Linked DNA regions of Homo sapiens: regions 2 and 3 are each linked to region 1. Evidence: fine-mapped expression QTL. A gene starts in region 1. Each other region holds a variant in brackets. All regions are shown on one strand. Distances are from middle to middle.

Region 1 (2,805 bases):
TTGTCATACAAAAGCATTTTTTAAAAGCCCCCAAAACTACTGTCTTAGTTTCATAGATACTATAATGTACACAAAAAGAATATAATCCCTAATAAAGGATTCCTTTACATTGATTACATTTAGCTTCGTGAAAATTTTAGCATTTCTTTTTTTACTTTAGGCCATTAAAAAAATTCTGGCGACTATACTTAGGAACCTCTGCAAAAGGGGCATGGCCCAACAAAAGCAATTTTCTCGCTTCCTTTGTAAGAACCTAGGTGACTCGGGTAATGAATAGCATTTCGATATGGGAAACCCGTGGCTCTTCAAGGAAGGTCACCTAATCCCGTGGGACTCCCCTTTCCTTATCTGTAAATGACTAGATGATTCATCCATTCTATCATTCAGAAAATTATGAACATCCATTATGCCCAGGCATTACGCTCAGCATTACAGCTCTTAACAAATTTATCATTTTATAGTCTTTATCAGTCAACTCACATTTATTAGTTGTTATATACCAGGCTGTGAACTAGATTGAGATGCAAAATGAATACAATTTAAGGTGTGCTAAATAAAGGCTAACGGGCATGTGGGTGAAAGAGGGAATCGCTCTTACAGGGTTTTAGGGTGAGGCTTCATAGATGTGACATTTGGGAGCAAGGACATGCCAGGCACAGCAAGTCGTCGGCAGTGCTAAACTGGAACCCAGGCGGCTGGTGGGGCGACCCAGTGTGAAGGAAGCGGGATCTCGAAGGTGAGGTGCTGTCCGGGCTTTTCAGCCGAACGGACGGTAACTCATCCAGTCCGCAGCACCGAGGATGGGCGAGGCGAGCCCAGGGAACAGACTCCCGCGAAGCTCGGGGCGGAAGGTGTCTGGGCTAGGGCTGGAGCAGTGCAATGGGAAGGAGAGGGCGGATTCCGGACAATTTTGAGGCAGAATGATAGCAAAAGGCCCGTGAATGCGTGACGAGCTCCACAGAAGAGCTGACTTGTTTTTCCAGAGTTGCAGCACTCCCTCGTCTCCTCCCACCCTCCTCGTCAGCCGTCACACTTCACACTTCCTCTCTGGGGACACAGAGAATCATTAGAGCTCGAACGTGGCTCTTCGCTGTCCGGAACTTCCCTGCCCCGCACCACCCGCTAGGCTAAGGACGCTGCAGAATCCCGTCCTCCTATCATTAAACAAGCAGGACAGCCGCCCGCGCGCGTCCCGGAGGCACCTGCAAGAGCGCGCGGGCGCGCGGGCGCTCGGGCCCGGCAAACGCCGCTTCCGGGTCACGTGGCCCGGCTTCCGGTTCGCACCTCCCCTCAGCGAAGAAACCTCCAATCGGCTGCCTTGGACTCAGCGGTTACCCGCGCTGCCTCCGGTGCCGCTGGCGACCGCTGAGCCGCTTCCCGCGCGTCGCCTAGCCCGCCCCTCAGCTCGCCGCAGCCCCGGCTCCTCCCTCGTCCGGCCCCCGGGGCGGGGTCTGTCAGCTTGCCCTCCCCTCTCCGCCTAAGCCTGCCCTATGCCAGCCGGGTGTCCTCCCCACAGCACCACGGCTTCTCTTCCTCAGCACGGCGACAGGGGCTTCCCCTTCGCCGCCGCCGCCGCCGCCGGCCAAGCTCCGCCGCGCCCGCGGCCCGCGGCCGCCGTAAGTCCCTGGGGGCGAAAGGGGGCGCCGGGGATGGGGGAGAGGGGGAGGGAGGACTGGGCGCGCCCCCCGCCACCCCGCGCGCGCCCCGACGACCCCACCCCGAGCCTGCCCGGCCCGCCACTGGGTCGCCGCGCCCGCAACTCACTTCTCTCCGTGTCCGCGCCCTCCGCACCACTCCGCGCCGCGCCCGGGGATGTGGGGGCCAGTCCCGGGCTCCGCGACAGCCTCGCGGCACCTGTGGTTCGGGAATCGCCTCAAGTTTTGCGGGGCGCTTTCGGGAGGGGCCGGGGGCGGTGGCGGCCGAGGACTCTTGGCGCCCCCTGCGCGGCGGCGGATGCCATTGTCTGCTCCGCTCCTTGCCTGTCACCTCTCCCGGGCTTGGTCAGTGATGGAGTGTGGCCACGGGAGTGGGGGGGAGGCACCGGCGACGGCCGGACCCGAGGAACGCTGGCCCCGAGCCCGCGCCGCGGCTGAGCCCATTGTTTTTAATGCCAGTCTCGAGGAATTGTGGTGCCCTGTGATTTGCGGCAAAATCAAAGCGTTGGTTTTTAACACGAGGGAAGGAATACTCGTGCTTTGCAACCGGGTTTCGTCCCATGTTAGGACATAATTTATTTTAAGGAGAATACATTGTTTTTTCGTCCTGCAAAGTGGTAGGGCGGATACAGGACCCTGCTCCAGACAGCCTTGAGCCCATACTCTTCGCAGGCAAACCCTCACCCTTTCTGGTCACCAAGATCTAGGAATACGAGGTCCATTCTTTTCCAAGTTCTGGTAACGGGTTTGCAGTAAATGCCCAGTTGATGCTTCACTTCCTGCCCCCTTCGAATGCCGCTATCTTCAGGACTTGCACGGGAGGCACTTTGGTATCACCTAATAATGTCCTTATATTTTGTTCCCCTGACGCATTTTAAGTGAGGTAATAAGACCATTTTAACTTTACTAAAGTTGAATTGCCACGTCATACATTTCTAGATATCTTGTTGATACCTTTTTGGGTGGTTACAAAAAGCGACGATAATTTCTTACCGAAATTTAGGGCCCATTTTTATTCTACATTGGTTCTGTAAATTTCCCCTCCCCGTGTTCAAATTCAAGATGGTGTGGTGAATCTTGAGAATCATGCTTGAATCTTATTTGCAGTAACGCTGTTAAAGGAACTTAACAGTGATTAAAAGAAAAAAGG
Region 2 (2,805 bases), 50 kb before region 1:
GCAAGATGTAACTTTCTTAGAGTTGAATAAAAATAACACAGCAATCGGGTGATATGCAATTTGCCACTTGTACTTTCAATTTACAGACCTATTGCATGCCACTTGTGTTGGTTAAAGAAACAAGAAATAATTAGAAAGATAGGCTAATAGGGATAATAAGATATTTGTGATATCTGGGTCTTCCTCATAGCTCAAAAGACACTGTTTATTATACTACATCCAAATATAAAACAAATGATCTGTCTCCAACATAAACTATTTAGACTGAAAACCAGCCAAATGAAAGCAGCTGCCACTAGATTAAAAAGTCATTTTCTCAGCCAACTCAGATTAAAAAAGAAACATTTTATGAACATATTTCTTCAACTCAAGCAGATTTTTATTATTCTCTGTTTCAGCTGCACATAAAAATAAAAACAGCATCTCCTGGCATGACCATTTGCTAGAAATTTAATTTCAGATAAACAGATGGTGCTGAACTAAAAATATTAGCAGGGTATCATCTGTAAAATTCAAATCATTTTAGTATATGTTGTCTTTAGTCTTTTTTTTAAAAAAAACAGAAGTTTCTTTTTATAAATCTATTACACTAAAATGTAGCAAATATTTATCTTCAAGAGTGTTGAACAAGGGGCAGTTGGCATTTCTCTTGTGTCCCCTACCTCTAGGGGCTCCTTAAAAGAAATACATTTATAATATACTATTCCTTTTCTTACTTCAGGACCCTGAGATAAATCTGGATACAACTTTTTAAAGGCCACAAATTGAAGTTAAAATTCTCTTTACTGGTTGACTTACTTGCTATTAAAGGCTTGGGCACATTTTGTGCACCTGGGGGCCCAAGTTCTATATGACCAACTTCAGTGAAATGCGTGGATGCAGATAAAGGAGAAAAAGGCTGGCGCTGCAAAGAGCTGAAAGACAGTTTCCCAAATTCCATTAATAATTAAAACAAAAAATTAAAACGGCCTCTCCAACTGCTCAGCAAAAGTTCTAACCCAGGACCAAAAGCTACAGCAGCTCTGGGGACCAACGAAGGCTCTAACTGTGATTCGAAGCATGGATTGGATTAAAGCTCATTTTCATTTTGTGCCATCTAACTGCACAGCATACATCAGGTCAAACCACATTAAATTGCCAGTATTCAACCAGTTTTGACCACCATATGGCTCAACCTGATATCTAGGTTGCTTCCCAAGACCACTATTTCTAAG[C/T]CTGCCCTTAGTACAAGAACATTATTCAATGAACATAATTAAAGACAAGTAAAGACTCAAATCTGAAATCAATAGTCTATGGTCATAAATGCTAAGGTATTTTTTAAAAATTGAGTCAACTTTTGCTGCTACCAGCATCCATAATTGTGAATTAACTAGTCCAGATAAATAAACAGCTTTAGCATTATATTACTGGGAAATAGAAAAAGACAAATCTTTATATGGAAATGTATTGCTAGCCTCAAAGGGATTAAATATGTATATGTATATTTAATATTATATATTTAATGTTATATATATAGTACTTCTGGATGTATACTATGTTAGTATAAATAAGTGACTTTTTTTATACTAAGTGATTTTTAAGGAAAATTTAAGTTAGAATTCTCTTTACTGGTTGACCAGCGAAAATTTTAAGGCAAGGTCACTTAACTTTGGTACGATTGTCATTTTGGATCAGATCATTCTTTGTTGTGGAGTTGTCCTGTGCATTGTAGGATGTTTGGCAGCATCCCTGGCCTCTACCCATTAGATGCCAGTAGCACCACCCCTCTCCAGTCAGGATGCCAAAAACATCTTCACACATTGCCAAATTCCCTTGGTGGGTGGAGGGGGCAAATCCTTAACCCTCGTTAAGACTTGAGAAGACTTATTTAAGGTCTTCACTCAGTAACCAACCTATTCCATGTGTTTCTCTACCTTATGAGGGGGATAACCTCACTAGAAATAATATTTTTTCAAAGATTTTTGGTTTGGTTTGCCAGGTTTAGCAAATTAAAAATAGAGGTTGCCCAGTTAAATTTGAATTTCAGATAAACAACAAATAATTTTTTAGTATAAACATGTTCCAGGCTGGGCACTGTGACTCATGCCTGTAATCCCAGCACTTTGGGAGGCCAAGGCAGGAGGATCGTTTGAGCCCAGGAGTTTGAGACCAGCCTGGGTAACATAGCAAGACCCTGTCTCAACAAAAAAATAAAATGAAAATTAGGCAGGTGTGGTGGTGCACACCTGTAGTCCCAGCTACTCAGGAGGCTGAAGTGGGAGAACCACTTGAGCCCAGGAGTTTGAAGTTATAGTGACCTACGATTGCTCCACTGCACTCTGGCCTGGGAGATAGAGTGAGACTCTGCCAAACAAACAAACAAAAAAAAATGTTCCAAATATTGCTTAGTGTTTAATCTGGCAACCTTATTTTCAGTGAACTGCTAATACCATAAAAAAATTACTATAAATTAATTGCCAATTCATGACAGAGGAAAACAGGATTAAACAAAATGACAAAGATAACAGTTCACAGTTAGTGAGTTATAGTGAAAACAGCACATATTTTGGAGCCAGGTGTCTGAGGTAGAACCTGACTCTGCCATTTTGGAAGACGTGACCTTGGGCAAGCTAACTTATCTGAGTCTCCCTTTCATCTTTTATTTTTTAACAAATGGTGGGGATTGGGGGTGGGAGAGGGAATTATAATTCTCTTACTAGTCACTGTTAAGACTAGTAAGAGAGTTACTTACTAGTATTATTATTATTATCAAACAAATTGCCTCCTAAATGCGAATTGTATGATAAAGAGAAGCAGCTCTTTAAG
Region 3 (2,659 bases), 33 kb after region 1:
CGGCTCCGGCTCCGGCTCCGGCTCCGGCTGCCCCGGCCCCGGCTGCGGTCCCTGCTGCGGTCCCTATTTCTTCCTCTGCTTCGTGAATTGTGCCTCTCCCGACTCTTTGATGTGCGTTTGTGAGATTTCTTCCCCCTGTGACGACTACTTTTCCTCTCGGATTCCCCATTTCTTTTGTAGGAGTGGTCTGGACTAGGGTTTCTCCTTCCCCGCAGCCTGCTGTAGTAGTCGTCGTGGTGGCCCATCCTCTCCCTCCTTTCGGAGTTCTTCCCAAAGGAGGAGCCAGTCCGATCTGGAGACAAGTAGATGTCTCTATTAGCTTCCCAGAATTCATTGTTGGGATTTCTGAACACATGAAGAAAGTTGCAGTGCTTTCCTCTTGGACATTGTTGTATTTCAAATAAACCTGCAATGGCACAGTGATGAAACAGCACTTATCACTGCATATTCTGAAGATGCTACTTTATCCTTTTCCGAAGGTACATTTCTGATATTTGGATATGCTAGAACTATTTTCTACTGTGTATTATGTAAAAGGGGCTTACATAAATTGATGTCATAATTTGGTTCCCACGATTTCAAACGTGCTCTAATAAATGACACTCTGAAAGGTAACAAATCAGAAGTTTTCATTAAGCAGAATAGCCTGTGCCCCTGTTGGATTATGGTGCAGACTGCAACTGAGCAAATGGTGACCACGTTATCTTCTCCAGGTTTCACCTTCCCACTGATTGACGATTTTGATCCCTGATTAACATCAAATAGCCAGCTCTTTGGGTCCCTGTGGTAGCACGGTTTGATGGCATGGAGGAAACAGGCCAGAACCACTGGTCAAAAGAGAAGGCGTGGCCAGGTGCGGTGGCTCACACCTGTAATCCTAACACTTTGGGAGGCTGAGGCGGGCACAGACCTGAGGTCAGGAGTTTGAGACCAGCCTGGCCAACATGGCGAAACCCCATCTCTACTAAAAATACAAAAATTAGCTGGGCGTGGTGGCAGGCGCTTGTAATCCCAGCTACTCAGGAGGCGGAGGCATGAGAATCACTTAAACCCAGGAGGTGGAGGTTGCAGTGAGCCAAAATTATGCCACTGCACTCCAGCCTGGGCGACAGAGTGAGACTCACTCTCAAAAAAAAAAGAGAAGGCCTATTAAACATAGAGGAGTCTATATTTTCTTTAAACTTTAAGATTATAAACATTACACTAATGCTTCAAATTCACTAA[G/A]TGCTTTTAATACAGAAGATTCTTATCACAGATAAAATCTATTCGAACAATTTTGAGATCTTTGGGGTTCTCAAACGTTTTTTAAAAGCAGTAAATTCCCCAGATATGCACAACAGTTAGAAGTGAAATACCTCCGTACCACATACTATATACAAAAATTAAACTGTATCCAAGACCTAAATGTTAAGAAATGAAACTATGACCTTGAAGAAAACATACAAGTAAATCTTTGTGACCCTGGGCTAAGCAATGTCATCCTAGATGTGACACCAAAACAAACAAAAAAATAGTTAAGTTGGATTTCATCAAAATTTACAACTTGTATTTCAAAAGAACATGAAGTGAAAAGAACCTACAAAATGGGAGAAAATATCTGCAAATCATATTTGTGACCAGGTACTTGTATGGAGAATATACCAAGAACTCTTACAACTCAATAATAAAAAGACAAAGAGCCTAGTTAGAAAATAGGCAAAGGATCCAAACAGACATCTCTCCAAAGAAGACATACAAATGGCCAATAATGAAAAGATGCTCAGTGTCTTTAGTCAATAAGGAAAATAAAGTGTTTTTTTTTTTTTAATGAAATAGTCCCCTGCTTTGGAGGAGTCAAGGTCACACTCAGAAGCTCCTCACTGAACTCACACTGGATTCCCAGGAACTGACAAAAGTAACTGCCTTTATGGAGCGAACAATTCCACCTCTTCCATCCCCCGAGCCTTTAAAGTGTAATGGTTCTTCTGGTTTCCCTTAGCCAGGAATCCTAAAATCTTTCTTTTCCCTTCATAAATGGTTTCAGAATGACAGAATCCAAGGAAGACAAGCTTGCCAAAGATTCTGACTTTGCGTTAGGCAGGCATGTATACAGCAAAGAAACACAAGTAAACGGTAAGATAAGTGCTCCCCAGAGGCATTTAGAGCTCATCTCTTTTCACCTAGGGAACAGTCCACTGAGAGAAATCAGAACATAACTAGGCCTTCAAAACTGCTGGCTATTCTGCACAAGACTGGATCATTTCCTGATTGGGTTGCCACTGTCCGATGTCAGTCTGACTGCATTCATGTTTAACTGATCCCAAGCCTACAATTAGTCTCTAGTGCACAGAAGGATGTATTATTCCAAGTAAGGCAGGAAATGCTATGGGCAAGGTAACGTAGGTGGTCATGACAGAAGATTCATTAGGGATAAAGATGGAAAGAAAGAAACAAACAAACAGCTCAAGTGAAGTGAGCCAATGAATATAAAATACCTCTGAAACTGCAACAAGGGAAATGGGGCTTCCACAGACGTAAACTCCTCAGGCTTCCTGATTTGTCAGACACAGAGCCCAGGACTGAAGATTGGAAGACTGGAATTCTAGCCCCACCTCTGTCACCAATACGTTGTGACCTCAGTCACTTCATCTATCAAGTGACTCATTGAGGTCGGTTACAG

Alleles and levels. Positions count from the first base shown, and alleles are read on the strand shown. Sizes are in standard deviations (SD) of each study's normalised expression. Not every link is listed here.
For the expression in fibroblasts of the gene that starts at base 1,491 in region 1, A is the high allele of the variant in region 3 and G is the other (small effect, 0.34 SD a copy in GTEx).

Evidence for each region. PIP is the estimated chance that this variant, and not a neighbour inherited with it, causes the effect. A credible set is the group of variants that fine-mapping cannot tell apart.
Region 2: its variant is the best candidate, but not a certain one, in a credible set for the expression of AP1S2 in monocytes (TOPMed, PIP 0.50).
Region 3: its variant is the best candidate, but not a certain one, in a credible set for the expression of AP1S2 in fibroblasts (GTEx, PIP 0.69).

Annotation. Positions count from the first base shown.
Region 1 is chrX:15,853,499-15,856,303 of GRCh38, reverse strand. It overlaps AP1S2 (adaptor related protein complex 1 subunit sigma 2), which reads left to right and starts at 1,491. Exons shown (of 6, transcript NM_001272071.2): 1 at 1,491-1,616. RefSeq lists silencers at 1,075-1,184, 1,275-1,554, 1,775-2,064 and an enhancer at 853-1,457.
Region 2 is chrX:15,903,757-15,906,561 of GRCh38, reverse strand. No RefSeq gene overlaps it. Among named protein-coding and RNA genes, the nearest start is that of AP1S2, 50 kb to the right of the region's middle. The variant C/T (reference allele first, on the strand shown) is at 1,215.
Region 3 is chrX:15,820,478-15,823,136 of GRCh38, reverse strand. ZRSR2 (zinc finger CCCH-type, RNA binding motif and serine/arginine rich 2) reads right to left here. Exons shown (of 11, transcript NM_005089.4): 11 at 1-406. Among named protein-coding and RNA genes, the nearest start is that of ZRSR2, 31 kb to the right of the region's middle. The variant G/A (reference allele first, on the strand shown) is at 1,225.